Homo sapiens: one gene and its partners. The protein of the gene in region 2 purifies or fractionates together with the protein of the main gene of each other region. This does not show direct contact. Each region holds a gene or a part of one and is shown on either strand. Other genes may lie near its edges.

The links.
Region 1: the proteins of C16orf87 (region 2) and ANAPC1 purify together in Homo sapiens (co-immunoprecipitation; 3 studies listed by BioGRID and IntAct, with this or other methods). This does not show direct contact.
Region 3: the proteins of C16orf87 (region 2) and ANAPC7 purify together in Homo sapiens (affinity purification with mass spectrometry; 3 studies listed by BioGRID and IntAct, with this or other methods). This does not show direct contact.
Region 4: the proteins of C16orf87 (region 2) and ANAPC4 purify together in Homo sapiens (co-immunoprecipitation; 3 studies listed by BioGRID and IntAct, with this or other methods). This does not show direct contact.

The regions. Positions count from the first base shown.
Region 1 is NC_000002.12:111,818,168-111,825,193, forward strand, and holds part of ANAPC1 (anaphase-promoting complex subunit 1), read right to left. Parts: intron 7,001-7,026; coding exon 6,964-7,000; intron 6,870-6,963; coding exon 6,799-6,869; intron 4,434-6,798; coding exon 4,255-4,433; intron 3,299-4,254; coding exon of another isoform or gene 3,287-3,298; coding exon 3,072-3,286; intron 1,256-3,071; coding exon of another isoform or gene 1,234-1,255; exon of another isoform or gene 1,122-1,233; intron 792-1,121; coding exon 673-791; intron 1-672. UniProt on the Homo sapiens protein: Component of the anaphase promoting complex/cyclosome (APC/C), a cell cycle-regulated E3 ubiquitin ligase that controls progression through mitosis and the G1 phase of the cell cycle.
Region 2 is NC_000016.10:46,821,162-46,828,187, forward strand, and holds part of C16orf87 (UPF0547 protein C16orf87), read right to left. Parts: intron 3,322-7,026; coding exon 3,225-3,321; exon of another isoform or gene 3,219-3,224; intron 1-3,218.
Region 3 is NC_000012.12:110,379,685-110,386,710, reverse strand, and holds part of ANAPC7 (anaphase-promoting complex subunit 7), read left to right. Parts: intron 1-241; coding exon 242-384; intron 385-3,750; coding exon 3,751-3,868; intron 3,869-4,762; coding exon 4,763-4,959; intron 4,960-7,026. UniProt on the Homo sapiens protein: Component of the anaphase promoting complex/cyclosome (APC/C), a cell cycle-regulated E3 ubiquitin ligase that controls progression through mitosis and the G1 phase of the cell cycle.
Region 4 is NC_000004.12:25,373,075-25,380,288, forward strand, and holds the start of ANAPC4 (anaphase-promoting complex subunit 4), read left to right. Parts: upstream 1-4,188; 5' UTR 4,189-4,270; intron 4,271-4,343; 5' UTR 4,344-4,353; coding exon 4,354-4,482; intron 4,483-7,214. UniProt on the Homo sapiens protein: Component of the anaphase promoting complex/cyclosome (APC/C), a cell cycle-regulated E3 ubiquitin ligase that controls progression through mitosis and the G1 phase of the cell cycle.

The DNA of each region.
Region 1 (7,026 bases), on a different chromosome or scaffold from region 2:
TCTGAAGCAAATAAAAATGAATGTATTGATTAAAAACACGTGTATACAATACATACACATAATTATAAACACATACATTTATTTGCTAGATATAAAAGGATGTTCACTGTAAATTTTTAAAAAAATCTAAAATAGATATAAATTTTCTGATAATTAAACAAATATAAAATTATAAATATGTGGAAATAAACTTAGTAAACATATATACTAAAATGTTAAAAGGAGTGATGCAGAAGAGTGGGAGTACTGCAAGCGACCATTGTTTCTCTTTTTGCTTAGTACATTTCTTGATTTATACAATGATCATCTGTTTAAACTATGACGTAAGACATTTTAAAACTAAATATTTTTACATATTAAACTTAAGATTATTTAAAATTCAAGTCTCATCGTTATCAATAATATCTTTCTGAACTTCTCCAAGTGACTTTTTAGATCTTAAAATCACCTCATTAAAAAGCAAAAATGAGTAATGAACTATATTCTGCTTCTCTCAAAGTTTAGTTTCACATGGCATTTGAGCTTTGATAACCACTACAGCAGCTATTAGGAAAATTTTAAATCACTGGGGATAGAGGGAGCATTTCTTTTGTTTTAACTAATTTAAAGAACTACACTTAATGCATGTACTTAATCATTTTCCTTTCTCATTGAGCCCAGAATTTAACATACCAGTCAGATTCAATTTAGGAATAGGCAATGGCTCTGTTGGAACAGGATGGTACGAAAACAAGGTAAACATTCCTCGTCCTACAGGAAGAGCCATAGTTCGCTGACACAATTGGAGCAATCTGTAATTAAAGTAAAAACCAACATATGAAAATGTTTAAAGCAAAGAGCAATTGAAATATCATCTGTAAGTATTTCAAAAGAAGGTGTACTGTATAAGATGAAGTTGTCTCAAAGTAAATTCATACACAGATGTGAGTGAACTACCCAAACATGATTATTTTCATTTTAATATTCTTGTTCCTATTACACTCTTAGGGAGAGACATATTTCCTCTGTTTTGTTTCATATTTACATTGAATGAAAACCACCTGGCCTATAAACCCAGCCGACTCTCTCTAGGCATTCAAAAAAAAAAAGAAATTTAAAATTCCACTCCGATGGATGCTAACCTTCTCAAAGGAAAATACAGTACTTTTGGGGTTTTTATCACTGTGTTAATTTCAGTCTAGCTGTCCTCAGTACATGTGGGATCCTCCTCCCATCCCTTTTGCCAATACAGCCTCAGAAGTACCATTTCTGTGGCCTGTACACAAGAAAAGAAACAAGGTCCTTGTGTTAGAGGTGAATGGATTTCATGGTGTCTCCAAGGGAAATACAGATTGGTTTCACTTACATGATGGCTAGATTTATAGGACTAATACCATTATGTATCAGGTATGTTCAAGGTTAAAATGGTTTCTGTTGGCTCTACTGTGAAATTAATACACCACTCTTCAACTTCTTCCTATGTTAAAATAGCTTAACATTCCATATAGCCACTTAAAAAAAACTAACAGAAATTTTGGAAGTAGGGCATTTATAACTAAGAAACGCCTATACAAGCTATATCTGAAGACACAGAAATATCCCTTCAGAGGCTGACAACTGACAAACATTTTCTCTGCAGACAAAGCTATTCATAAGCATACTCCCTCCTTAACTGGACACACATAACTGCTTTTCTAGCTAACTGGAAAGAAAAATTTTGCTGTCTTAAAGATTCTCTGGGAACACAACCGCAACATTAATTTGGGATCAGGAAAATTCAAAGCCAAGAGGCTGTTGCAACCCATAGAATTTTTTTAGAGGAAATCTTACACATAATTCACTTCAACTTTGCGCAAGTAACAAAATTATAATGAGAACAATATTATATCCCCTGAATATAAGATGCCACTGATAAGATGTATCATTATTTCATGAGAAACTAAGAAAGAAAAAGCACTGCCAATTAAACTATGACACCTGTTCACTGAAATACACAACTGATTTCAGAGATATTAAAAAGTGAAAAAACTTGCATCTTAGAATCAATGAACTCTACTACTAATAATGGCTGACTGCACTGAGCTTTACTATGTATTGAGCAGTATTCTAAGTGCTATGTAAAAATAATTCACTTGATACACAGCACCATCCCATGAAGTATGCCTACTTTTACAAATGAAGCAACTGAGGCAACAAGAGGTAAAGTAATTTAACCAAAGTCACCCAGCACAGCATGGCCATGCCTGGCTCTAGAGGCCATGCTCATAAATCCTATGCTCTAAACTCAACTTCTGTCACTCCATCTTTTTATTCACAGGTGACTAATAACTGGGTACATGTGGAGAGGAAACAGTTAATAGGGAAATCACAACTAATTCAGATCTTCAGCAGCCTGTGGCTAAGTGTGGGTGATGGTTCCCCTCAAAACAGTACCATAAAAAAAGTAAAGAGAACTAGAAAACAGTGGCAGATGAATGATAGATGATAGAGACAAGCAGATAAAAGAACAGGAGAGAATTTTAAAACAGAAGTGTCCCAAGAGAATAGCTCTGGAATGTCATAGGCATGTGAGTCTTATAATGTATCAAGGGATGTATCCTGTGCAGGGGAGTGGCAGAAGAAAGGCTTATCTATTTTTATTTGGAGTATCATCTATCATATCCAAAAAAAAAAAATACTCATACAAGTTTAAACTACACTAAAAACCCCACTAACCTCAAAATCTATTCCTGATCAAGACACAGAAAAACAAGTCCAGTGTTTTCTTTGTTTGTAAATTCTTAAGGTAACTATCAGGCAAAATAGTTTTACATTCACCTTTTCTAAAGAGTAAAGTGTTATATGTATTTCAAGAGGAGGACGATATGAAATACAACAATTACGTCCTCAAAAGCCAAAGACATTTTGCTAACACACGTGGTTTGTTGAAGTTGGATGAAAACTTAAAACACAGGGCATATTTTCACTTGAAAGTATCTTTTAAATCTCTTTAGGGTTTTAAATGCTAAAAACTTGAAGGAAAAACAAATATACACAAGACACAAATGTAACAATGAAACATGACAAGAGATAGTGCACGTGTTTTCTTTCACCTGTTTTCCTTTTCCTCGATGAACTCGTGGTCACTGAGCTCTGGGTACTGCACTACGTTGACACGGACAGGATGCGCACTCTGAAGAAGCCTTCGCACATCCTGCACCCTTAAATCTTCACTCCATATTAATGACATGACCTCGTGATTCATGTCATTCATGCCGTCATCTTCCTCCTCAGTTTCTGTTCCTGAAGGAACATCTGATGAGAGCACCTGAGTAACAGACTTTATTGTAATAATAATTTCAAAAGCAGTTAACATGCACTTGCTGAACATGAGGATATATAGGCTGATGTGTCTTGACTATACTAGCACAGAGAAAATATGTTTTCCAAAGCAGGCATGGGTTGGAGCCGCAATGTATACTGGGACTCTAATCTACAAATCTTTCTAAAAAGTACTATATTGCTGGCCGGGTGTGGTGGCTCACACTCTGTAATCCCAGCACTTTGGGAGGCCGAGGTGGGCGGATCACCCGAGGCCAGGGGTTCCAGACCAGCCTGGCCAACATGGTGAGGATGATTTAAAAAGATAATTGGAGAGTAATGAAATAATTTAACTTTCTACTTGCAGGATTCCTAGAACTCATTTGAAAAAAAAAACAGACTTGATGATTGATGAAAGACAGTATTTCGGGAGGGATAGCTTAAGACATGTTTTTAAACAACTCTACTGAAAAAAACACATTTTTTCCCTGGGGCTGCAGTTTTATGTGATTAAACAAATATGTTTACACCTATTTAAAAGGTTAAATTCAAAAAATTCAACACATCAAAAAATATGCAGTAGAAAATATTTATATATAATTACTCATCCAAATTCAGGATATATGTGCTCTCCCTTTTCCTATGTAATAATTACAAAGTGGTTAATTACTAATATGGTACAAGTAGGGAAATAGCCATGGTAGTTTCCATGACTACCCTCAGGACTTGTCCTGATTCAAGGCAAAGAAAGATCCAGGCACAAGACAGAACATTCACAAAATCTCCTGCTCCTAATGCTCATCTTAACAATTAATAAGACGCGTACAATTACAAACCCCGTCTGGCATATAATATAAAAGACAAGCTAATATATATACTTAGAAAAAGCCTTAAAGGAAAATGAAGAACATTTCTACTTTATGATTTTATTTAAGGCTAAAATTGGAACTCTGAACTTTCTATGTTGATACTCACAGACTTCCCTTTGGGTAAGTTTCCTTCGCAGGCCTGCTTGGAAAGATCCTGACGTCCAATCAAGAGACAGACAGCTTCTGGCCAGTCTGAGGCAGGCTGCTCACGACAGTGATAAATTGCATCTCTGATGGGAAGAGCAATTCCAAAGGGAAGAGTTTCCAAATCTCTTAAAGTGAATCCTAATGGTTAAAGGAAGAGAGAAAAATTTTAATTTAGACTCGCCACTGTCCCAATTATCCTGACTGAAGTTGGCAACAATATCTATCCTGACAAATAAGTTCATTTTATTCATCTTACTACCAGACTAATGTCTTGACATCAAGGACTAGTATAGGAAGTCTCTTTGAAAGAACTTGTAAAAACCTGAAGAAAAAAAGACAATCTAATAGAAAAATATAAAGGACAAAAAGACATTTCCTAGAAGGGGAAACATAAATGGGCAACATGCATATGAAAAGATGCTCTACCTAATTAGGGATCAGGAAAATGCAAATTAAAGCTACTGAGAAATATAAATGTCAAAGCCAATCAATACTAAATGTTGGCAACTATGTAGAGCAATAATAATTCTTTTTATTCTTTTTTTTTTTTTTTTTTTTTTTTTTTGAGATGGAGTCTCGCTCTGTCGCCCAGGATGGAGTGCAGTGGCGCGATCTTGGCTCACTGCAAGCTCCTCCTCCCGGGTTCACGCCATTCTCCTGCCTCAGCCTCCCGAGTAGCTGGGACTACAGGCGCCCGCCACCATGCCCGGCTAATTTTTTTTGTAATTTTTTTTTTAGTAGAGACAGGGTTTCACCGTATTAGCCAGGATGGTCTCGATCTCCTGACCTCGTGATCCACCCGCCTCGGCCTCCCAAAGTGCTGGCATTACAGGCATGAGCCACCGCGCCTGGCCCAAGCAACAATAATGCTTATCCATAGCCAATGGTAGTGTAAACTGGTACAACCACTTTGGAAAACAGTTGGTATGTATAGGTCAATCCACCCATTTGATCCATCAACAGCCATATAGAAACTTATACCCATGTACAAAGACACAGGTATAAAAATATTCATTAGCAATACTGGTTTGTTATGGAAAAAAAAAAAGAGATGGAGAAAGGGGTGAGTCCGATTGTCTATCATCAATAGAATGGGTAATTAAATTATGATATGTTCAAACAAAGTAATCTCTATATCAGAGAAAATGAATGGCCCGCTGCTACTGCTACATGAGTCGACATGGATGAATCTTTAAAAAACAAAGTTGAGTGAAGAAAAAGGAACACATATTTACATCTATATATTTTCAAAACTACATAAGACCTAGCAATTTATAAAGATGTAAAACTATAAAGAAAAACAAGAGTAAGGTAACACAAATGTAGGTAGGGCAGTGGTTCACTATAACATTGGGGTGTGTGACAGGAGGGGACCATCCAAGAACAGATATGTAAGGGCCTTCTACTATGCGGGTAATATTCTATTTCTAGGGGTGGGTGACCAGTACATCAATACTCACTTTAGTACCATTCTCTAAACTAAACATATACGTTTGACATATTATTTTGTAAGTATACCATATTTCATATTTAAATTTATCCTCAGGTTAATTAAATCATGTTTTTCTTATGATTTTCTAAATTTCATAATACTATGCATTATTTATAATATAAAAAGTCGATTAACTATTGAGGCAAAAAATGTTTCCTTATATGAGAATAACACTTATTAAATATTATGCAATATACAAATGGATAGAACTAATCCAATATTTTTCAGCATAGGTATCCTGTATGTATACTATGCAACAGTTATTGTCATTTTTAAGGTAAAATGCAAAAAAAAAAAAAAAAAACCTGTCAGAAACTTCATTTAGAACATACTTTAGATAAGACTTCAAAAACATCTTTTAATATTCATTAAAACTTTACTTTTTAACATACATCCCATATAACATCCTCATTTTTAAAATCATGTCTTCGTGGCAGTAATTTTTGTTTTTCAGTTCTTTGTGAAAAAAAATTTCTTTGGTATTTTACTTAATTTAAAACCTAGGAGCATAGGTTTGGGGAATAGGGAATATAGAACTCTTTTCCTTCCTCTTCCTCTTCCCAGTTCAATGTTCATCTTGGTGCCTGAAATCCCTTCAAAAGTGCATTTATCCTTCAAAAGTATACCCTGAAATGTTTATATTATTGCTTTTAGACTTTGCCAAAACCACCCATTTCTGATATCTGAGTATCACAATGATTTCAGGTGTGTATGTAGGTGATTAGAGTTCTCCATTCTCAGAGACCAGCTTACATAGCCACAGCCTCAAATGTTCCAATTAAATGGCAAATAAAGATTCCTTATGCATCAAGATAAAAAGCTGGTATCCCAAATATTATTATATGAAAGTTGTGAGATTGTCGAGAAAAAAAGAATATGGCTTGATGAACCATAATCTCAATCTTGTGAGGCCTTTTCACAAAGCCAGAGCCCCTCTCTCCTCATGCCTTCCACTTCTAGCTAGTCTGGAGGAAGCACGGCCTAGTTAGGAGGTAACAAAGAAGCTCTCACCTACATTAGTCATCCAGACAACCAATCTTTCAGCTAGACTAGAAACAGATGTAGAATGCCTGAAACTAAACCTATAAGAGAATAAAACATAAAGTTATTAAGCAGAACAGTAAATAATATTGTTTTAAGTGTTTGACATAAAAGCACAGTCTAAATAAAAGTCACCTGTTTTCCTCTTGTTCTACTTGCAACTTCTGGGGGGCTAAAAGGCAACAAAATGAAACTTAA
Region 2 (7,026 bases):
ACCTAAAACTTACCATGCTTTGCAAATGTTAGACATTTTCATATGTACTTCAATCCTCTAACACTGGTACTATAAATCTATCTTATAAACAAACAACAGTTGCTCATGGAGGTTAACTAGGCTGCTTAGAAAGGGACAGAATCTGAATCTGAAGCCAGGTTTTCTGACCCCCACGTCTGTACTCTACCAAACTGTTTTTGAGGCTTTGAATACTCTTAATCCTCTCCCTAAAATCTTTTCCTCCTGTGGTTTCTATGGCACAGCCTATCCTTGATGTTTCTCCTTCCTTTCTGGTTTGGTTTTGTTGCTGGTTCTTCCTCCTCCTGCAGGGATTTCTGGGCTTCAATGTTTCATCTTCACTTCAAAGTCAAAAGACCACTCTTACTAAACAAGGAAATCTCAGGAAACTCCAAATACAAAATAATAATGAATTGCTTCTTAAAACTCATCGCCATGACTTACATAACATTGTGCTGTTGGTTTTTCTCCTACAGCTGACATTTCTTCTTAGTTGATCTGACCTGTCTGTAAAATTGGTGTCTGTCACAGTTTAGTCCCTGAATGCCTTCCTCTTCCTAACTTACAAACTCTGCACCGCGAGCTCATCCATTTTCCATGATGACAACTACCATCTAGTCACTGATGGCTCAAAAGTTTTACCTGCAGCTGAGGCTGCAGACTATATGTCCAACTGAAAAAAAAATCTACACGGATGATGTTTCTATACCCAAAATTAAATTCTTCATCTTTCCCCCACAGCTTGTTTTCCCTCTTATATTCTCTTTTAACTAGCAATCCAAGTCAGAGATCTGGGAATCTTCTAAATTCTTCCCTCTGGTTTAACTGGTTAAACTTAACAACTCATTAACACTTGTATCATCTGTTCCTCCTTTTTTTCATTTTATTTTAGACAAGGTCTCACTCTGTCACCCAGGCTAGAATACAGTGGTACAATCACAGCTCACTGCAGCCTCAACTTCCCAGGCTGATGCGATCCTCCTGCCTCGGCCTCCCAAAATGCTGGAATTATGGGCATAAGCCATCATGCCTGGCCCTGTTCCTTCTTTTATCTTTGTTGACTTTCTTAACTCATTTCTCATCTGAATCACTGGTACATAAAAGGAGCTCAAAAATACTTGAATTAAAAAAATAAGCACTTTGTCTCCCTAAGAACAAGGACCATGTCTTATTCATTTTTAGAAACTCAGCACTGAGCTGACACGCCACCCCAAAATAGCTACCGAGTGAATCATCATTTCAGGGTTCCTTTATCTAAACCAAACTCTCAGAGAGTAAGATCCAGAAATGCATTTTTAACAAGTTCTCTGCATGAATCCTATACAGCCAACCCAGCAACCGCCTTTAAGAACCAGTGAATTATGTTCATTCTCATGATGAGAAGAGAACTGAAACAGTGACAGAAATGGAACTAAACAAGTTTCCTGCCACTTCTATATAGACCTAAGATAAATAAACCTCTCAGACATAAATAAAAATTATTATTGAATCATCTGCTACTATCATCAGTCTTTGTCTAACTCAGTATTCTTAGTTAGCCTACTGCAATAATCCACTTCCATATTTGTACCCCTACAAACTATTCTCTACACAGCAGCTAGAATGATCTTTCTAAAACTCAAATCAGAGGATGCCATCTTCTCCTCTCTTCATCCCACCCCATCTCAGGGACAGTTTCTCCTCACAGTTTACAAACAAAATCCAAACTTCTTACTCTGGTTTACAAAGCCCTATACAATCTAGCCTCTGCCTAGCCCTGTGAACTCATCTTCCACTCTTCTAATCATACTGTCTACACTGCAATCGCAATGGTCTTTTTTGTTCCTAAAATATAAAAAATGTTTTCCAACCTTAGAACTTTTGCACTTGCTATTTCCATCTGTCAAGAATGTTCTTTTCCCTGATCTTATCATGGCTAGCCCCTTCTATCCACTGAGACTCCATTTAAATGTCACCTCCTCATAGGGGCCTTCTCTAACCACCCAATCAAAAGTAGCCTTCCAGTCACTTCATAGGACTATAAAGCATTTATCACAAGGTTACATTTTCTCTGTATATTTGTTCACTGTCTATCTCCCACCCACAAGAATATAAGCTCCATGACACCAGTAAATCTGCCTTAACAGTAGAATTCAGTGCTTTGTGCCCAAGGCTTGGAATAGTGTCTAGCATATAGCAGGTGCTCAGTATATATTTGTAATGAACCTACTCTTATTTCGAGGTCACCACCATATGAAGGTCTGCTTTTAGCCAAGAATAAGTAACAAAATTGTATCTTTTAATATTAATAAATATGTCTATTGAATAAATCCAATTTGTCTACGTTAATGGAAAAGCAACAAGTTCAAACAAAATCATTATTTGGATATCCTCAGTCAGGGAACTGTAAAACATAGTCAACATGTCTAAAAACGTTTTTCATACCAAAACCAAGCTATATTTTTCAACGGTCACTAGTTTAAAAAAAAAACAAAACTTAAAAGTTGCTGCAAATTTTACCACCATTATGAGAGAAAAAATTCAAATGTCCATCAACAGGAGAATGGATAAACAAATCTCCATACAAAGACTCCTACTAAGCAATAAAAAGGAATGAACTCTTATTGGTACATACAACATGGCTGAATCCTAAATAATTACACTCAGTGAAAGAAGCCAGGCAAAAAAGAGTACATACTATATGATTCCATAAATACGAACAGTAACAGAAAGCAGATCTGTGGTTACCTGGGGTGGAGGTAGCAGGAAGGAGGGATTACAAAGGGAACTAGAACACTTTTGAAATTGATGAATGTTCATAATATTGATTGTGGTGATTGATTGGTATATACATATGTCAAAACTTATCAAACTGTGCACTTCAAATACATCCAATTTACTCAATGTCAATTATTACTAAAGCTATTTTTTTAAAAAGTTTTTATATCAGATCAGGTCACTCCCTTGCTAAAACCTTTCAATGGTTCTCCACCTTCAAAAATAAAAAATTTGTTACAAGCGTTATCAGCATTGTAAGGGACTTAACATTTAAATGGAATGCACATGAAACCAACGTCGTAAACTAATTCCAATAGTTAATAAAAGCCAAAAACACTTGAATAGATTTAAACTTTTAACTTCAACAAAAAATGTAAATAGAAACTTCACAAAAATTAACTTTACATTTCTACATCAAAAAGCTAAAAATGTATTAAACTCACAGTTACCTGTAGAAGGTGGTGATTTCTCTGAGTGTTTTGCATTTAAAAGTTTTCTGCTAATAAATATGTAACCACAAGGACATGATTTACATGCAACAGGAACCTGTAGGAAAAAAAGAAAAATATATATTATTACTATTTTTCTATTGTTAAATTTCTCAGTGTCTATGTGGTCTCCTCAAATGAATGATAAATTACTTGAAGGAGGAATCATGTATTTATTTAAACCTCAACTCCTTACAACAAATTATCTGAGATGAGTATCATATCACATAGATATTCACATTCTTTTTTTTTTTTTTTTGAGACGGAGTCTCACTCTGTCACCCAGGCTGGAGTGCAGTGGCATGATCTAGGCTCACTGCAACCTCCACCTCCTGAGTTCAAGTGATTCTTCTGCCTCAGCCTCCCAAGTAGCTGGGACTACAGGCACACGCTACCATGCCCAGCTAATTTTTGTATTTTTAGTAGAGATGGGGTTTTACTATATTGGCCAGGTTGGTCTTGAACTCCTCACCTCGTGATCCGCCCACCTCAGCCTCTCAAAGTGCTAGGATAACAGAAGTGAGCCACCACACCCGGCCTGATACTCATATTCTTCTACTGCTTAACAAAACCATGAAGACTATACCATACCAATACCATAAAAAATAAATATGTATTAAATATGCACTGATGTGAGTGACCAATAGAAAACTGTAATAGGGTCAGAGCAAGGGGAAGTATGTGGAAAAAAAGGTAGCATTTCCTAAAATGTTAGTTTGACAGCTTTTTACGGTATAGAACAAATTTGAAAAGGGTGAGTGGGTAGGAAGTCATTAAAGTAATCCTGGTAAAAGATTATGAAGGACCAAGTGGAATAGTGAGAACGGAAATGGAAAAAGGTAGATCTGCCAGAGTTTCCAAGGCAAGAAAAACAGACAAAGGCCCAAACTGATGACTGGTGATAAAGTGGGAAGAAGTGAAAATAACTCAGGATTCTAACATGAGAGGAGAAGATATCAACTACCACTGACAAAGAATAAAGAATAGTTTATAGCAACCAGATTTTTCTTAAATTCTTAAATTGTTGTGGGTAGATAGTAGGTGTACATGTTTATGGGGTACACTAATATAGACATGCAATGCGTAACAATCACATCATGGAAAATTGGGTATTCAACCCCTCAAGCATTCTTCCTTTTTGTTACAAACAATCTATACTCTTTTAGTTATTTTTAAATGTACAATTAAATTATTATTGACTATAGGACTGGGCGCAGTGGCTCACACCTGTAATCCCAGCACTTTGGGAGGCCGAAGCAGGTGGATCACTTGAGGTCAGGAGTTTGAGACCAGCCTGACCAACATGGTGAAACCCCGTCCCTACTAAAAAAAATACAAAATTAGCCAGGCGTCATGGCACATGCCTGTAATCCCAGCTACTTGGGTGGCTGAGGCAGGAGAATCGCTTGAACCTGGAAGGCAGAGGTTGCAGTGAGCCAAGAGTGCACTATTGCACTCTAGCCTGGGCAACATGAGCAAGACTCTGTCTCAAAAAAAAAAAAAAAAAAAATTATTATTAACTATAGTCCCCCTGTTGTGCTATCAAATATTAGGTCTTATTCTTTCTAACAACAACCAGTTTGAGGGGCAAAAGTATGCTGACATAAAAAAAGAGAATGTAGGAGAAGGTAGGAATTTAGATCCAGAATCTTATATCTTAGTTCCAGGAATGACTCCGGACAAGATATTTAAGATCTTCAAGCTTCTGTTTCCAAATCTGCAAAATACGTAAATTTCCTTTCTCTACTCCAAACTTATAACTGTTTTTTAAGCCAAGTGCTACTGAAAATCATTGAAAAAATTTTTTAGTTTTCCCCATAATCATTTCACCCATATCAAAGTTAATGATCCTTGGAATCAAGACATGTTCACCAAAAGTCTGAAACTAATCTCAACGAAAAAGTATTTACAGAATAATTACAGTAAGAAAACTGCAATTCCCTTTGTAAGATAAATTCCCCCATTTGGCAGTTGTTCTGCTATGTAAAAACTGAGTTAAAATTATGAAGCTTTTTATCTATGTATGTACAGAATGCCTCATGTTATAGAATCTAAACACTTGATCTAATTGAGCTAAATTGAAATTTTGGCAGAATAATTCCTTTTCTTTGTATAAAAACATTGAACAAAGGATCTCCAATTTGTATTTAAGAAAAATAACAAAGAAATCAATAAAAATAATCAAACTCCAGATTTGTCTAACAGCTTGCTTTGTTAAGAATGTAATGAGATCCCTTCAAATCACGACAAAAAAAATGCTACATTTTTTAAATAGTGTAAAATCTGTCTAAAATAGATGTCTGACATTTTTTCAAATTTCGTATCTTCATAGAAACCAAGCTCAAAGGCACTGACTCATTTCCTTTACACCTAAACATATTATTAAGGGCATCCACAGTAATGTAAATTGTTTTAAATTAATGCTATCCAAAATACGCAAATGCATGTTCTTACTCAACAGCTCCTTTCCTAATCAGCAAGCATTTTCTTCCAGCTACTGAAACTCAATAAATTTGAATTTGGGTTTCAGTCTTATACAAAAGAACTTCATATCAATCCATCTCCAGAATTAACAGTGTTGCAGTTAGATGAGAAGTATACATTTGGCTTTGGGACCCAGAATGCACAAACACTGACTAACTGAATTAACAGGTTGATTTTCATCCACAAATGAAAGTGTTTTATGCTCAATAAACCCTCATGTGCCTGAGTTAATTCATTCTATAGTTTGAGTTAATTCATTCTATAGTCTGAGTTAATTCATTCTATAGTCCTATTTAAAATAAAAAGTTCCTTCCCCACAACCTCTGCCCTGGAAAACAAAAAACAAAAAACACACCACCACCACCATCACCACCCTAGATCCTGTAAAAAGAATTATCAAATAGGTTGGACAACTTCAGTAATATTAACCTCATTTCATTAATTATAGTATAATTTAGATTTTAAACAAACACACTAAAGTTTCTTTAAATTTCAGTTGATAATACTAAACCTAACAGTACTGAAATTCTAATATTACACTTTCAGGATTTTAAAAAAAAGAAAATATTCAAAGTATTGTTTACTGATAGTTTACTGGGCATTAATTCACTTTTTTAAAAAAAGATTTAGGTTGTTTGTATGTTTTACAAGTAAAACAGATTTTTTATTTATTTATTTATCTTTTTTTTTTGAGACGAAGTCTCACTCTTGTCCCCCAGGCTGGAGTGCAATGGCGCGATCTTGGCTCACTGCAACCTCTGCCTCCCAGATTCAAGTGATTCTCCTTCCTTAGCCTCCTGTGTAGCTGGGATTACAGGTGCCTGTCACCACGCCCGGATAATTTTTGTATTTTTAGTAGAGATGGGGTTTCACCATGTTGGCCAGGCTGGTCTCGAACTCCTGACCTCAGGTGATCCACCCACCTCGGCCTTCCAAAGTGCTGGGATTACAGGTGTGAGCCACCATGCCCAGCCTGGATTTTTTAAATCTGAAAAAAAAAAAAATCTGGTCCTATAGTGTTTCACTGATTTTTTTACTTTTTTTTTTTGAGACGGAGTCTCTGTCGCCCAGGCTGGAGTACAGTGGTGCGATCTCGGCTCACTGCAACCTCTGCCTCCCGGGTTCAATCACTTCTCCTGCCTCAGCCTCCCGAGTAGCTGGAACTACAGAGGTGCATGCCACCACACCCAGCTAATTTTTTAGTAGAGACAGGGTTTCACCGTGTTAGCCAGGATGGTCTGGAACTTCTGACCTCGTGATCCACCTGCCTCGGCCTCCC
Region 3 (7,026 bases), on a different chromosome or scaffold from region 2:
TCTGAAGAACTGCAACCACAGAGTTATTTGTTGGTACTGAGAGACTTCTGCTTTATTCTTTGTTTTTGCTATCCTGTCCTATATAACTTTTTTTAAAGTCATAAGCTTAAAGTTTTTTATTACGAAGAATTTTATATTTATGCAAAAGAAAATAGTATCTGTATGACCAATCATCCAGATTCAGCAACTAAGAGGATTTATAATAGATTTAAAGGTTCAATGTTTAATAAATATCTTAAAGTTCACTAGAGAAAAAATCCTTATTGCGAGATAACGTGGACCTATTGGGAAGCTTGGCAGATCTGTACTTCAGAGCTGGAGACAATAAAAACTCTGTCCTCAAGTTTGAACAGGCACAGATGTTGGATCCTTATCTGATAAAAGGTAAGTAATTCTTGGGGCAGGAAGACAGTGGCTGTTGTTGGGGGGGATCAGAGATAATAGGGAGAATATGCAGCATTAATACTCGATACCAAGTTTCATAGAAATGGTGTATAAAACTTATACTAGTCTTTTACTTTTTTTAGGTCATGACACATGTCTCTAACGCTTAGGTAATACCATTTGAGCAGCTGTTTTTGCTTGAATTCAAGTGTCTTCTCCCCACAGATCATTATTTGGCTTTTTTTCTTTTGAGGGGGTCATAGCTCCTCCTTATGACTTATAAATTTATGGTGTGCCTGACTGAGAATTTGGATGGCATCCCTAAAACCATAATATCCTTTTAGGGAATTTTGTTTTGCCATGTCCTTAGTATAATTAAAAAGGAATAAGAAAGGGATAAGGTGATTAAAGGCAGTAATTAGGCGTGAACAACAGAAAAATCACTGATCTTGAAAAAGATTGCAGGTGAAGGGTAATCTTCACAGGGACCTCCAACAGATGGCAGTTAGGACACTGGCAGTGAGTTCTCAGGAATAGTGGGAAATAAGGTCAGATAGATATGCTGTCTATTTGTAAAGGTCCAAAAAAGGCCATCAGAAAAACAGGGCCTTGTGACAATAAACAGTCTTATGAGCTCTTAAGCCAGGGGAATGATGGAGCTGGGAAGGGGCCATCCCAAGCGTTTAGATGAGGAAGCAGATCTAGAAGGATGGATTTGTTTGCACAAGATCTCCCCTCACCTCAAGTGCTTATTCCTCTTCTCCAAGCTGCCTGCACCCATGATGAAAATGATGTTTTAGAAATACTAGTCTGGCAACAGCTGGCAGCTTGGAATGGCAATGGCAGCTTGGAATCTCAGACCCAGGCCCAGGGGCTAGCAGGAGCATTGCAGTAATCTTGGCTTGAGAGGAATTTTCATGGGAATCTGAAGGGATAGCAAGGGATGGAAGAGAATGGTGGCAAGAGATGGGTAACAGTGAGCATAGGTCCCTTTTTATAGAATGTGGGTGAGAATAAAGCGGGGGCTGCGGAGAGGCAGTGATTTTTTATTTGTTTGTTTGAGACGGAGTTTCACTCTTGTCGCCCAGGCAGGAGTGCAGTGGCACAATCTCTGCTCACTGCAACCTCCGCCTCCTGGTTAAAGTGACTCTCCCACCTCAGCCTCCCGAGTAGCTGGGATTATAGGCGCCCGCCACCACACCCAACTAATTTTTGTATTTTTTTAGAAGAGACGGGGGTTTCACCATGTTAGCCAGGCTGGTCTGCAACTCCTGACCTTAGGTAATCCACCCGCCTCAGTCTCCCTAAGTGTTGGGATTACAGGCCTGAGCCACTGCACCCAGCCCGAGGCAGTGATCTTTAATGAACTGCATTCTGGATAGAACTACAAGCTTTTTTCTGGAATAGGCCAACTTTTTCTGAGACTGATTGGCTTTTCAGCAGTGTATTTCTGATGGTCTAGAACTCTGGGAAGAGAGACCTTAGTTGATGCCTTTTTTGGGCCTTTTCTGGTTGGGTTAGGGTAGCTGTGTATCACACCACAGGATAGAAGGACAAGCACTTCCTGAAAATAGCAGGCTTTCAAATTGTGAGGTAGGTTGTTCTGCTCCTTTGGTTTTTTGTTTTTTTTGTTTTTTTTTGTTTTTTTTTTGTGAGACAGAGTCTCACAGGCTGGAGTGCAGTGGTGCAATCTCGGCTCACTGCAACCTCCACCTCCTGGTTTAAGCAATTTTCTGCCTCAGCCTCTTGAGTAGCTGGGATTACAGGTGTGTGCCACCACGCCTGGCTAGTTTTTGTATTTTTAGTAGAGATGGGGTTTCACTATCTTGGCCAGGCTGGTCTTGAATTTCCACCTCGGCCTCCCAAAGTGCTGGGATTATAGGCATGAGTCACCGTGCCCGGCCTCCTTTGGTTTTGGTTTTGGTTTTGTTGTTAGAGACAGGGTCTCACTCTGTCACTCAGGCGGGAGTGGCACAAACATAGCTCACTGCAGCCTTGACCTCCTGGGCTCAAGCAATCCTCCTGCCTTAGCCCCCTGAGTAGCTGGGACCACAGGCATGTGCCACTGTGCTTGGCTAATTTTTTTTTCTTTCTATTTTATTTTACTTTATTTTATTTTATGTTTTAGACATAGTCTTACTCTGTTGCCCAGGCTGGAGTGCAGTGGTGCAATCTCGGCTCACTGCAACATCCGCCCTCTGAGTTCAAGCAATTCTCCTGCCTCAGCCTCCCGAGTAGCTGGTATTACAGGCGCCTGCCACTGTGCCTGGCTAATTTTTTGTATTTTTAGTAGAGACGGGGTTTCACCATCTTGGCCAGGCTGGTCTTGAACTCCTGACCTCGTGATCCACCTGCCTCAGCCTCCCAAAGTGCTGGGATTACAGGCATGAGCCACCGCGCCTGGCCCTTCTTTTTTCTTTTTTTTTTCTTTTTTTTTTTTTTTTTTTTTTTGAGACGGAGTCTCGCTCTGTAGCCAAGGCTAGAGTGCAGTGGCACGATCTTGGCTCACTGCAACCTCCGCCTCCCTGATTCAAGCGATTCTCCTGCCTCAGCCTCCTGAGTAGCTGGGATTACAGGCACACGCCACCATGCCCAGCTAATTTTTGTATTTTTAGTAGAGATGGGGTTTCACCTGTTAGCCTAGTCTCGAACTCCTGACCTCGTGATCTGCCCTCCTTGGCCTCCCAAAGTGCTGGGTTTACAGGCATGAACCACTGCACCTGGCCACTTGGCTGATATTTTAAAATTTCTTTAGAGACAGGGTCTCACCATATTGCCCAGGCTGGTCTTGAACTCCTGGGCCCAGGTGATCCTCCTGCCTCTGCCACCCAGAGTGCCAGGATTACAGGTGTGAGCCACCACGCCCAGCTGGGTTTTGCATTTTCTTTTTTTGAGACAGAGTCTCAGTCTGTCACCCAGGCAGTGCAGTGGCGTGATCTCGGCTCACTGCAACCTCTGTCTCCCTGGTTCAAGTGATCCTCCTGCCTCAGCCTCCCAAGTAGCTGGGATTACAGGCGCGTGCCACTATGCCCGGCTAATTTTTTGTATTTTCAGTAGAGATGAGGTTTCACCGTGTTAGCCAGGATGGTCTCGATCTCCTGACCTCGTGATCCACCTGCCTCGGCTTCTTAAAGTGCTGGAATTACAGGTGTGAGCCACTGTGCCCAACCTGGGTTTTGCATTTTAATAGTCACTTTGTAGGAAACTGGAAATAGTAGTTGGAGGAGCCTGTGATGGTGGAAAGGGCTTAGCCCCTGCAGGAGCTGGGGCCTCAGCATGGGGTCTGATGTTGGGTGCTACTCCTGTATGTGGGACCCCTGCTTCTCTTCTTAAAACACCTCTTCTCACTATGTCCTTCTCTTCTAGGAATGGATGTATATGGCTACCTACTGGCACGAGAAGGGCGGCTAGAGGATGTTGAGAACCTTGGATGCCGCCTTTTCAATATCTCTGATCAGCATGCAGAACCGTGGGTGGTTTCTGGGTATGATTATGCATTCTCTTTTCTCCCCAGTTGTCAGTAGATTAAGAGATAATGGTTGCTCTTGAAGAGAATATAAATTGAAAGCACAGGTTTAAGAGGTAATCACCTGGACAGGCATGGTGGCTCATGCCTGTAATCTCAACACTTTGGGAGACTGAGACAGGTGGATTGCTTGAACCCAGGAGGCAGAGGTTGCAGTGAGCCAAGATCGTGCCACTGCACTCCAGGTGGGCGGCAGAGTGAGATTTTGTCTCAAAAATAAATAAATAAAAATAAAAAGAGGTAATTACTTGAGGCCAGAAATTTGAGACCAGCATGGGCAATGTAGCAAGACCCTGTCTCTATAAATATATATATATATATATATATATATATATATATTTTTTTTTTTTTTTTTTTTTAAAAGGATAATCAGCCCTGGATTCAAATAATAGTTTATGACTCTGGATGCATTATTTACCTATCTAGGTCTGTATTCTCATTTGGAAAATGGGCTAATAACCTCTCCTTCTAGGGTTAAGCATTAACTGAGTTGGTGAATGCATTGTGCTTAGTACTGAGCCATCAGTGATGGGGCCAGAAGATGCTCCTTTGTTTATTAACCTGGCTTTACAAATTCTCTGAATGCCTCTCTGCTAATAACTAATATCCAGATCATAGGTTCTTTTTCATAATTTTTCTCTTCCATATCAAGATTTCCCCTTAAAAATAAATAGTGGATTTTTTGGTTTGTTTTGCTTTTCTACTAATATCTTAGGTTAAAACTATAAGTGTGGTTTGGAATAAGGATTATGTTCAGGGCCTTCAATATGATTTTTGGATCAACTTTCTTTGTAGTCTTCTCTTGGATAACTTCTGGGGTTTTTGTGTTTTTTTTTTTTTTTTTTTCTCCAGCTGTCACAGCTTCTATAGCAAACGCTACTCCCGGGCCCTCTATTTAGGAGCCAAGGCCATTCAGCTGAACAGTAATAGTGTTCAAGCTCTGCTACTTAAGGGAGCAGCACTTAGGAACATGGGCAGAGTCCAAGAAGCAATAATCCACTTTCGGGAGGCCATACGGCTCGCACCTTGTCGCTTAGATTGTTATGAAGGTAAGAAAGAAAACATAGGTGAATGGTGTGAATCCGTGGGTGTGGCAGCAGCCCTCAGATGGAAGGTTTCATTAGGCCAGCACTTCCCAAACTCTGTTAGAATAATCTGGGGAAGCTGGCCGGACGTGGTGGCTCACACCTGTAATCTCAGCACTTTGGGAGGCCGAGACGGGCAGATCATGAGGTCAAGAGATTGAGACCATCCTGGCCAACGTGGTGAAACCCCGTCTCTACTAAAAATACAAAAATTAGCTGGGCATGGTGGCTCACACCTGTAGTCCCAGCTACTTGGGAGGCTGAAGCAGGATAATCACTTGAACCTGGGAGGCGGAGGTTGCAGTGAGCCAAGATTGCGCCACTGCACTCCAGCCTGGCGACAGAGCAAGACTCCATCTATTAAAACAACAACAACAACAACAAAAAAACATCATCCGGGGAAGCTTTTCAATATCCTGACGTTGGGTCTCTCCAGTGTAGATGGAAATACATGGAATTGGGAATAGACATCGATATTTTTGGAGGTCCCCAGGGGTTACCAATGTGCAGACAGGTTTGGGAACCACTGCATTAGGCATTTTACATTTATTTAGGGCTTTCACTGGATTTGTCACCCCATACTTTCATAATCCATTTTTTCTGATTTTTTTTCTGGTTTTTGGTGAGGGTATAGTTGGGATGGGGTTTTTTTTTTTTGTCCTCCCACCGCTCGCCCCCATCCAGTGTGGCGTACTCATTAATATGAATCTCTCTGTGTCAGACACCATGCAAGATCACTTAGTTTGCCTATTTTTTTTCTCTTACTCCTCTTTTTTTTGAGACAGAGTCTCGCTTTGTTGCCCAGGCTGGAGTGCAGTGGCATGATCTCGGCTCACTGCAGGCTCCACCTCCCGGGTTAATGCCATTCTCCTGCCTCAGCCTCCCCAGTAGCTAGGATTACACCTGGCTAATTTTTTGTATTTTTAGTAGAGACAGTGTTTCACCGTGCTAGCCAGGATGGTCTCAATCTTCTGACCTCGTGATCCGCCCGCCTCGGCCTCCCAAAGTGCTAGGATTACAGGCGTGAGCCACCGTGCCCGGGTCCTGTTTTTTTTTTTTTTTTTTGAGACAGAGTCTCGCCCTGTCACCCAGGCTGGAGTGCAGTGGCATGATCTTGGCTCATTGCAACCTCCACCTTCCGGGTTCAAACCATTCTCCTGCCTCAGCCTCCCAAGTAGCTGGGATTATAGGCGCCCACCACCACACCCAGCTAATTTTTGTATTTTTTAGTGAGATGGAGTTTCACCATGTTGGCCAGGCTGGTCTCGAACTCCTGACCTCGTGAGCTGCCTGCCTTGGCCTCCCAAAGTTCTGGGATTACAGGCATGAGCCACCACAACCGGCCTATTTTTTTTATTTTTATTTGAGATAGAGTCTCACTCTGTCACCCAGGCTGGAGTGCAGTGGTGCAATCTCAGCTCACTGCAACCTCCACTTGCCGGGTTTAAGTGATTCTCCTGCTTCAGCCTCCTGAGTAGCTGGGATTACAGGCATACACCACCACACCCAGCTCATTTTTGTATTTTTAGTAGAGATGGGGTTTCGCCATGTTAGCCAGGCTGGTCCCGAACTCCTGGGCTTAAGTGATCTGCCCAATTCAGCCTCCTAAAGTGCTGGGATTACAGACGTGAACCACTGTACATGGCCTGTTAGGCCTATTCTTTTTCGTGGCCATCTTACCTTGGGCCAGAGTTAGTACTCGTGGGATAACTCCACATCCATATGATAGTGTTGGCTGTGGGAATGGGTCTGTTCATTGTGACCTCCAGAGTGGGCACAATCAGGGTCCAACTTTGTTTTGTTATGTAATATTTTAAGTTCATGTGAATTGACCCTGGGAGTTCAAAGGAGCTGTGCCAGTTTCAGCAACGTTTGGTGACTCAGTCACAGACATTAAAATAGATCTTACAAGATGCAGTTCCTCCAAAACATATTTTTATAAGCATTTAAAAATAAACCTAGGAGTCTAGGAGTGATTTGCTCTTAACAGGAAGATGAGTTCAAATTTGAGAAATAAAATTTGGATGTTGG
Region 4 (7,214 bases), on a different chromosome or scaffold from region 2:
CAAAGGGTCCTGGTCAGCTGCCACTGCCTTCACAATGTCCCTGTTGGTCTCTCCACTGGAGTAGTACATCTGTTGCCAGAGAAATAAAAATGTCAGTTTGTGTGTTGTTTTTATACTTCTTTTATGGTACTTAAATCATGCCTTGTATAAGAATGACTTTATATACTTGTTTAGCCCTGTACAGATTAGAAGCTCGTTGATGGCAGTGCCTGTGGACATCATTGTGTTTGCTTACTAGGCACATGCCTTTTCTACGGCGATAGAGATGACCAGCCGCATCACCTGTGACCTCAGTTAATGGGAAGCAGGCAGCCAGGCTAACACATTTCTTCACCATCTAGGTAGTAGGTGCTCATAAATACCAACTGAGTGAACGGAAATGCCATTTAATATACCGCTTTATGCCTCACACCTTAACTATACTATGGAAGAAGCAGATACACTTCGAGCTCTCTAGGTAGGACAGCTTCCACAAAATCTAAAGGAAAATCCAGTTTCACTTATTTGATGTGATTTTAGTTGGACCATGAGGACCTGGGCTGAAATTAAGGGTCAACTAAGAAGGTCATTGCAATAAAGTAAAGATAAGATCTCTGCTATTTGATTTCAGGCAATTTAGTATAAATGTTAACTCAGCAAGATGAGGCTATAATAGCACCAACATTGAGCAACAAGATCTCAGAGCCCTGAGAGGCTGAGTTTTATCCCAGTTGTCTTTGGTGGAACAGTTAGTTACAAGATCCCTGGTTTAACTGCTTCATACCACTGGATACTAGAAGAGGTGAAACAGCCGGTAATCTCTAAGATGGTAGGCCTGAATAGATGGGTCAGTTTCTTCATCTGCAAGTGTGGAGAGGAGGAGTGGGAGAACACTAGAGGAAGTCAGCCCAAATATTCCACATGCTTAAAGAAGACAGGCCAGGTGCGGTGGCTCACACCTGTAATCCCAGCACTTTGGGAGGCCAAGGGTTGGGGGGGGGTGTGAAGGGTGTGGATCACCTGAGGTCAGGAGTTCGAGACCAGCGTGGCCAACATGGTGAAACCCCGTTTCTACTAAAAATACAAAGCCGGGGATGGTGGCGGGTGCCTGTAATCCCAGTTAGTTACTCGGGGCAGGATAATCACTTGAACCCGGGAGGCAGAGGTTGCAGTGAGCCGAGATCACGCCATTGCACTCCAGCCTGGGCTACAAGAGTGAGACTGTCTCAAACAAACAAAAAAAAAACAGAGGAAAACAAAGGTTGCTGCCTGTTAACTTTACAGTTAATACATGAGCCAGGTAAATCAAGGAAAAATAAAAGCATCTCTAACCCTACCACCCAGAGATAATCACTATTATAACTTCCCTGTCTACTGTTCCAAAGATAGGTTCTTGCATAAATAGGCTTACAGACACATGCAAAAATTTCCCTCAAGAAAATGGAATTTTAAGTACATACTGTTTTATGACCCATGCTTTTTCATAAGTATACTGTGAACATCGATTTATGTCTGCATAATATTCTTCAGGATAGATATATTTTTTAAAAATCTATGATGGGACATCTAGGTTGTTTGCATTTTTTCACTTTCGTAAATAACCTTATAATGAACATGCTTAAGTAAATATTTATTTCTCCTGCCCTTGCCTCCTTAAAAAGCACTGATAGCCGATCCCTGAGCCTTCTTCCCTTTTTCTCTTTATTCTGCAGTATTTTCCTAAGGATGGGGGAGGCAAAAAACGGAGTAGGTAGAGCTAAAATCTTTATGGGGCAGTGGGAAAAAGAAAAGGCTGGAAACACGATGTGTTAATATTTCTTGTCTTACGGCTACTTTGGATCATTTCCAAGAACAATTCCTGCCCCTTACTGCCTACCAACACACATGAGGGTCTATAGCAAGCTTGTCTAACTCGCAGCCTGTGGCCCAGGAGGGCTTTGAATGCAGCCCAACACAAATTCATAAACTTTCTTAAAACATTGTGAGATTTTTTTTGTGATTTTTTTTTTTTAGCTCATCAGCTGTCATTACTGTTAATGTATTTAATGTGTAGCCCAAGACGATTCTAATGTGGGAAGACAAAAGATTGGACACCCCTGGTCTATAGCAGCATAAAACTCTGCTGTTTCCTGCCCACATCTGGAACTCCACACTTAGGCTGTTTCCTTTGCTGTAAGGCTTAGAAAATTTATATTCTGTGAAGACTTAATGTGCAGGTGGTTATACTCTGTCCTTTGCAGTACGGTGTTTATGCCTCTGGGAACAGTGATTTTCACGTGCTGTATGGGTGTTTGTATTCAGGTAAGTTCCAGGAAAATGGACATTCAATTTCCGTAAGAAGGTTAATGTGCATAGATACTAGACCCCCACCAGGTGATCCATTATAACTGCCCCAAAACACTAACACCTGAAAATGCATTTTGTGAAAAACAAAGGCAAATGCATTTTTACCTTAGAAATGTTGATTCTGGAAGAGTTGGGGGCACTTGGTAAGTTGTTTGTGGCAAAGGCAAGGGCTGCAAAGCCCGTGACAGGAAGCAGGGTAGGTATAAAGTCAAGGATTAAGAACAGTACTTGGCACAAAATAGTTACTTGATGCTGAATGAATTAGTCTCCCTCCGTCATCTACTTCCCAGGGGCTAGATCCAGACAGAGGTCAAGAAGATGGGGCCTGTTGAAAGTTAAAGGACCTGCCGTCTGTTTCTTCTTTGAACAAGTGAAAGGTAGTAAAAAGTAGATGGCTTTCTACCATAGGTTTTAAGTTTAAGAACCCTAGGATGGTACTGTCACATTCTCTTAGGGAGGTCATAGCTGTGGGAACTGTCAACAGGTTGACTCATTTAAATGTGTCCTACATAAAGCAACATCAGATGAGTTCTGATTTACAAGTCTGCCAGGCTGGCCTGTGAGCCTCTGGGCAGAGTTCCCGTCCCATGCATTGCTGTAGCCTCAGTTCCTCCACATAGTAAATGCCCAAGTACCTATAGAAGAAATCGTGTGTGAGCCCACACTCTTTTTTTATATTTTAGAGACGGAGTCTGGCTCTGTTGCCCAGGCTGGAGTGCAGTGGCACAATCTCGGCTCACTGCAAGCTCCGCCTCACTGCAAGCCCCGCCTCACTGCAAGCTCCGCCTCACTGCAAGCTCCGCCTCCCGGGTTCACGCCATTCTCCTGCCTCAGCCTCCCCAGTAGATGGGACTACAGGTGCCCGCCACCATGCCTGGCTACTTTTTTGTATTTTTTAGTAGAGACGGGGTTTCACCATGTTAGCCAGGATGGGCTCTATCTCCTGTCCTTGTGATCCGTCCGCCACGGCCTCCCAAAGTGCTGGGATTACAGGCGTGAGCCACCGCGCCCGGCCCTGAGCCCACACTCTTTATTCGTTATGACGGTGCTGCAACTACCAATAAGTTGTGAGGGTTAAATGGGATGAGATGTCACAGTATTATTTGCCTGTTAGGGAGGTTTTAGGGCACGCGCCTCTTCTCTCCAAATTGGAATCACCCAAAGAGTTTTAGTAAATACTGGGCCCATCCAGGGTTAATTTTCTTCTAATTGGTTTGGGGTGCTGCTTGGACAGGGGGACTTTTAAAATTCTATACTGACCCACCAGGACTGACATGAGAACTACTCGCTTAGTAACTGTTAGAGGAGGCGCCAGCTGATCAGGACCTAAAGTTCATATTCTTTTTCATCTCCCCGTTGTCGCTGAAGCCTACCCCATAAACCCCTACCGTCCCTTTGCCCACAGCAGAGAATTTCCGGGAAAACGGGAAAGGTATGCAAGCATGCCCACACACGTGCACACACGGGTTCCCAAAAGACCTGCGTGTGGCCGCAGGGGCCTGCCCCGCCCTTCTCGGGCCCTTTCAGGTCCCGGCGCCCAGCGATCCCACCAGCACCTGGGTCCGGCGCGCGGCTCCCTCCCTCTCCGCGCCCCTCGGGGCTCCCTGCCCCGCCCGCGTGCCCCACCCTTCCTAGCTCTGCCCCATCGCTGCTCCCTGCCCCGCCCACGGGCCCCATCCTACCCCCACCTCGATCCGCCCCTCGCTCCTCCCTGCCCCGCCCACCGCGCCCCGTCCCTGTCCGCCCCTTCTGGCTCTCAGCACCCCCAAGACCGGTGCGCGCCCCGCCCCTCCTCCTCCTCTCGCGAGGCAGTCCCGACGCCGGAAGTGCCTGGAGCGCGCGACAGCGGCGGGGCGGGGCGGCCTGGAGGCTGTGGCGCGCGGCCGGCAGAGGGAGGGGAGAGGCCACTGGGGCCGTGTTAGTCTGCCGGTGGGGACTCTTGCAGGTACAGGCGCGGTCGGGGCTCCTCGTGGAGAGCCGGGGGCTCCTGCCGGCCTCTGACTGGGGTGTCGTTGCAGGGCCGTCCCCATGTTGCGTTTTCCGACCTGTTTCCCATCCTTCCGGGTGGTGGGAGAGAAGCAGCTCCCGCAGGAGATTATTTTCCTGGTCTGGTCGCCCAAGCGGGATCTCATTGCTTTGGCCAACACAGCTGGCGAGGTGAGTGAGCCGGCGGGAGCCCGCCTGTGCTGGGTCTGCTCCCGGGGGGCCCAAGAACACCGAGCCCGAGCCTGTTCATTCGGGCCACAGGCGGCCGGAGCCTCAGTTTCCCCTTCTGCAGACATGGCTGGCCACCTGCTACCCCTTCCCTGCCTCCCAGGACGGCAGTAAACTTTAAGTATATATGCGAAAGGTGATGTCTGTGCTATTTTCGGTACTTTTATGGCTAAAGTAACAGTTTTCACACAGCTTAACACCGTCACGCAATCCTGCTTCCCCAAGTCTTCTTCACTCATTGGTTTATTAGTTAAATGAACTTTTTAAAAAAGCCCACTATGTGCTGCTCATGAGCTAGACATAATGGTAGATGCAGGGACCCTGCCCTAAGTTTGCTTACAGTTTTAATAGCAGTAGGAAGAGTTATTGTCAAACTTCAGCTGCAAATGTGCCTGCATGTAGCTGCCACACAGGATATATTTAAGAACCTGGCTTCTCTTGTCCACGTTTTATAGTACGGGTTGGATAACCACCCTCCACTAAAAATACCTCTAAATTGGACAAGGAAGGCATGCATTGGATTCCAGACAGAACGTGCATGGGTGTTATCAGCATTTCTTGTTCACATAAAACTTCATCGAGTATAAACCAGTTGTACCCAACTTTCTGCTGAGAGTTATTACCTGCCAGCCATTTTGTAAGGAAACCTTCACCTGTGCATCTTTCCGCCTCTGGCTTGAGAGTTATCTGGCCATGTGAGAGTTGTATAGAGCCAAATTTGGAAACTAGGTGATAAGGAAATCTTAGCACCCTGCAGACTGTAGTCTGCACCATGTTATCTACCATGATCCAGTCGCCAGGGTATTGATGTCTAATTTTTCAGGGCCCTCCATGAAATCTAGCTAGTCTCCCTCCGCTGCCGGGATGCTTTGAAACTCTGTTGTGGCTCTAGAGAGCAGCAGGTGGTACCGTCACAGAAGTAGGAGGGAAGGTAGACGGGAGGCACATCCGTGCAATCAGATGGGTAGGCGTGATAGAGGGCACTGTTACATCCATTTTCTCAGTGAAGGAAGAAGCAAGGGCATTGTTTATGGGTGAAGATGGAGAAGAATATATTGGAAGTTTGAGGAGAAAGAAGAGGTATGAAAAAGCTAACAAAGCAGGTGGACTTGGGAAACCTAATAGGATTGCCAGTCAGTGTTAAGACCCACATGAGATCGGTGTTATTATTTGAGAGACACTGGTTGAATAAGGTTGTATGTGTCTCTCTCCGTTCTGTTTGGCTGTGTGGGTGCAGGCATGGTTGGGTTTAACCAGGATTGTCGTTTTGCAAGTATGACAAAGCAAGGCAAAGATGAAAGAGAGTTGAAGTTACGTGCAAGAGGAGTGATTGTGTTTCTGAACTTTGGGTTCTAACCTGATGAAGGAGGGAAGTGAAGGCATGTGTGGGGAGAGGGACAGTGAACAGGTGGTAGAATCAATAGACTGTATCCTGGTGAGGTCAAAGAATTGGAGTTGAGTGTTGTAGAGATGACCTGGAAAGAGGGGTGGTGGATGGAAAGTGGGAAGTTTAAAATGGAGATTTTGGTGGCCCTGCAGTTGTTGGTAATGACCAGGCCGGAGGTGTGACCCTGGGAGTGGCTGAGTGCAGTAGAAGATGTGATCACTGGAGGAGAGGTAATTGAGAGCTGAAAAGCCAGGACATCATAGCTCTTGAAATCACCAAAAATGATGATGAGTGTGTTGTTAGAAGGCATGAGCAAGCCAGGTATCCAGATCTTTAAGGAATGAGGGGAATGGCCTAGGGGTCTGTAGAGGACTGCAATTAAGACGGATAGCGAGTGGTATGGTCTGATTGCATGTGATTCAAAGTTAGGAGATTTACAAGAAGAGAAGAAATGGCATCAAGCATCAAGGAAGACACCTACTTCATCTCCTAGCCCAAAAGCAGCAGTACAGGGGCTGTGGGATACAAAATGGCCACCACCTAGCAAGGCTGCAGGGAAGCATTGTCCTCAGGTGAGAGGCACATTTCAGAGAAAAGTACGAAGATATTAATTTCATGATGACACCTGACCATGAGCTGCAGAAAGCACAGAGGAAGGGTTTCAGAAGTAAGGTATGGCAGGAGTGGTTTCAGAAAAGAGAGGGTCAAATCCAGGGGATGTTGTAACCAGGAGTGAAGGGTGCTGTGAGCTGTGAGATAAGGCAGGGTCATGGTGGCTTAGCTGAGTGTGGAAATGGGGAGGGGTCTTGGAGGAGCATGTGCAGTGGTGAGGCCTTTTCTTCCTTACTGTCAATGGTTGTATAGAAGCTGCAACGGGGCAGTCATAGAGCTCTTGGGCAACATTTTGACCTTCCAAGGTGGGAATTTACTGATGTGGAAATGGAGATTTAGAATGGTTAAGTGATATGTCTAAGATCCATGGCTAGTGAGTGACACAGCTGAAACTAGGTGCCACGTGGACTAATTCCAAGCTTAGTATAATTTGACTGTATTACAGCTAGCTACCTTTTTAGTGGTGTTTGTGTTCTTTTATTTCTTTTTTGGTTGTCACCTTGGACAGCCGCCTTCTTTATAAAAGGTAAGTCTCCCGTTGACATAAAAGATTAGGTACAGGGTTAAATTAGACCTTGTTTCACCCATTTATTTTAAAATACCTTGTGTTCATTCAGACACTGTTGTCTTTTTCTATTCTTCTGATAGCTAAGTATATATGAGAGATGGTCATTTA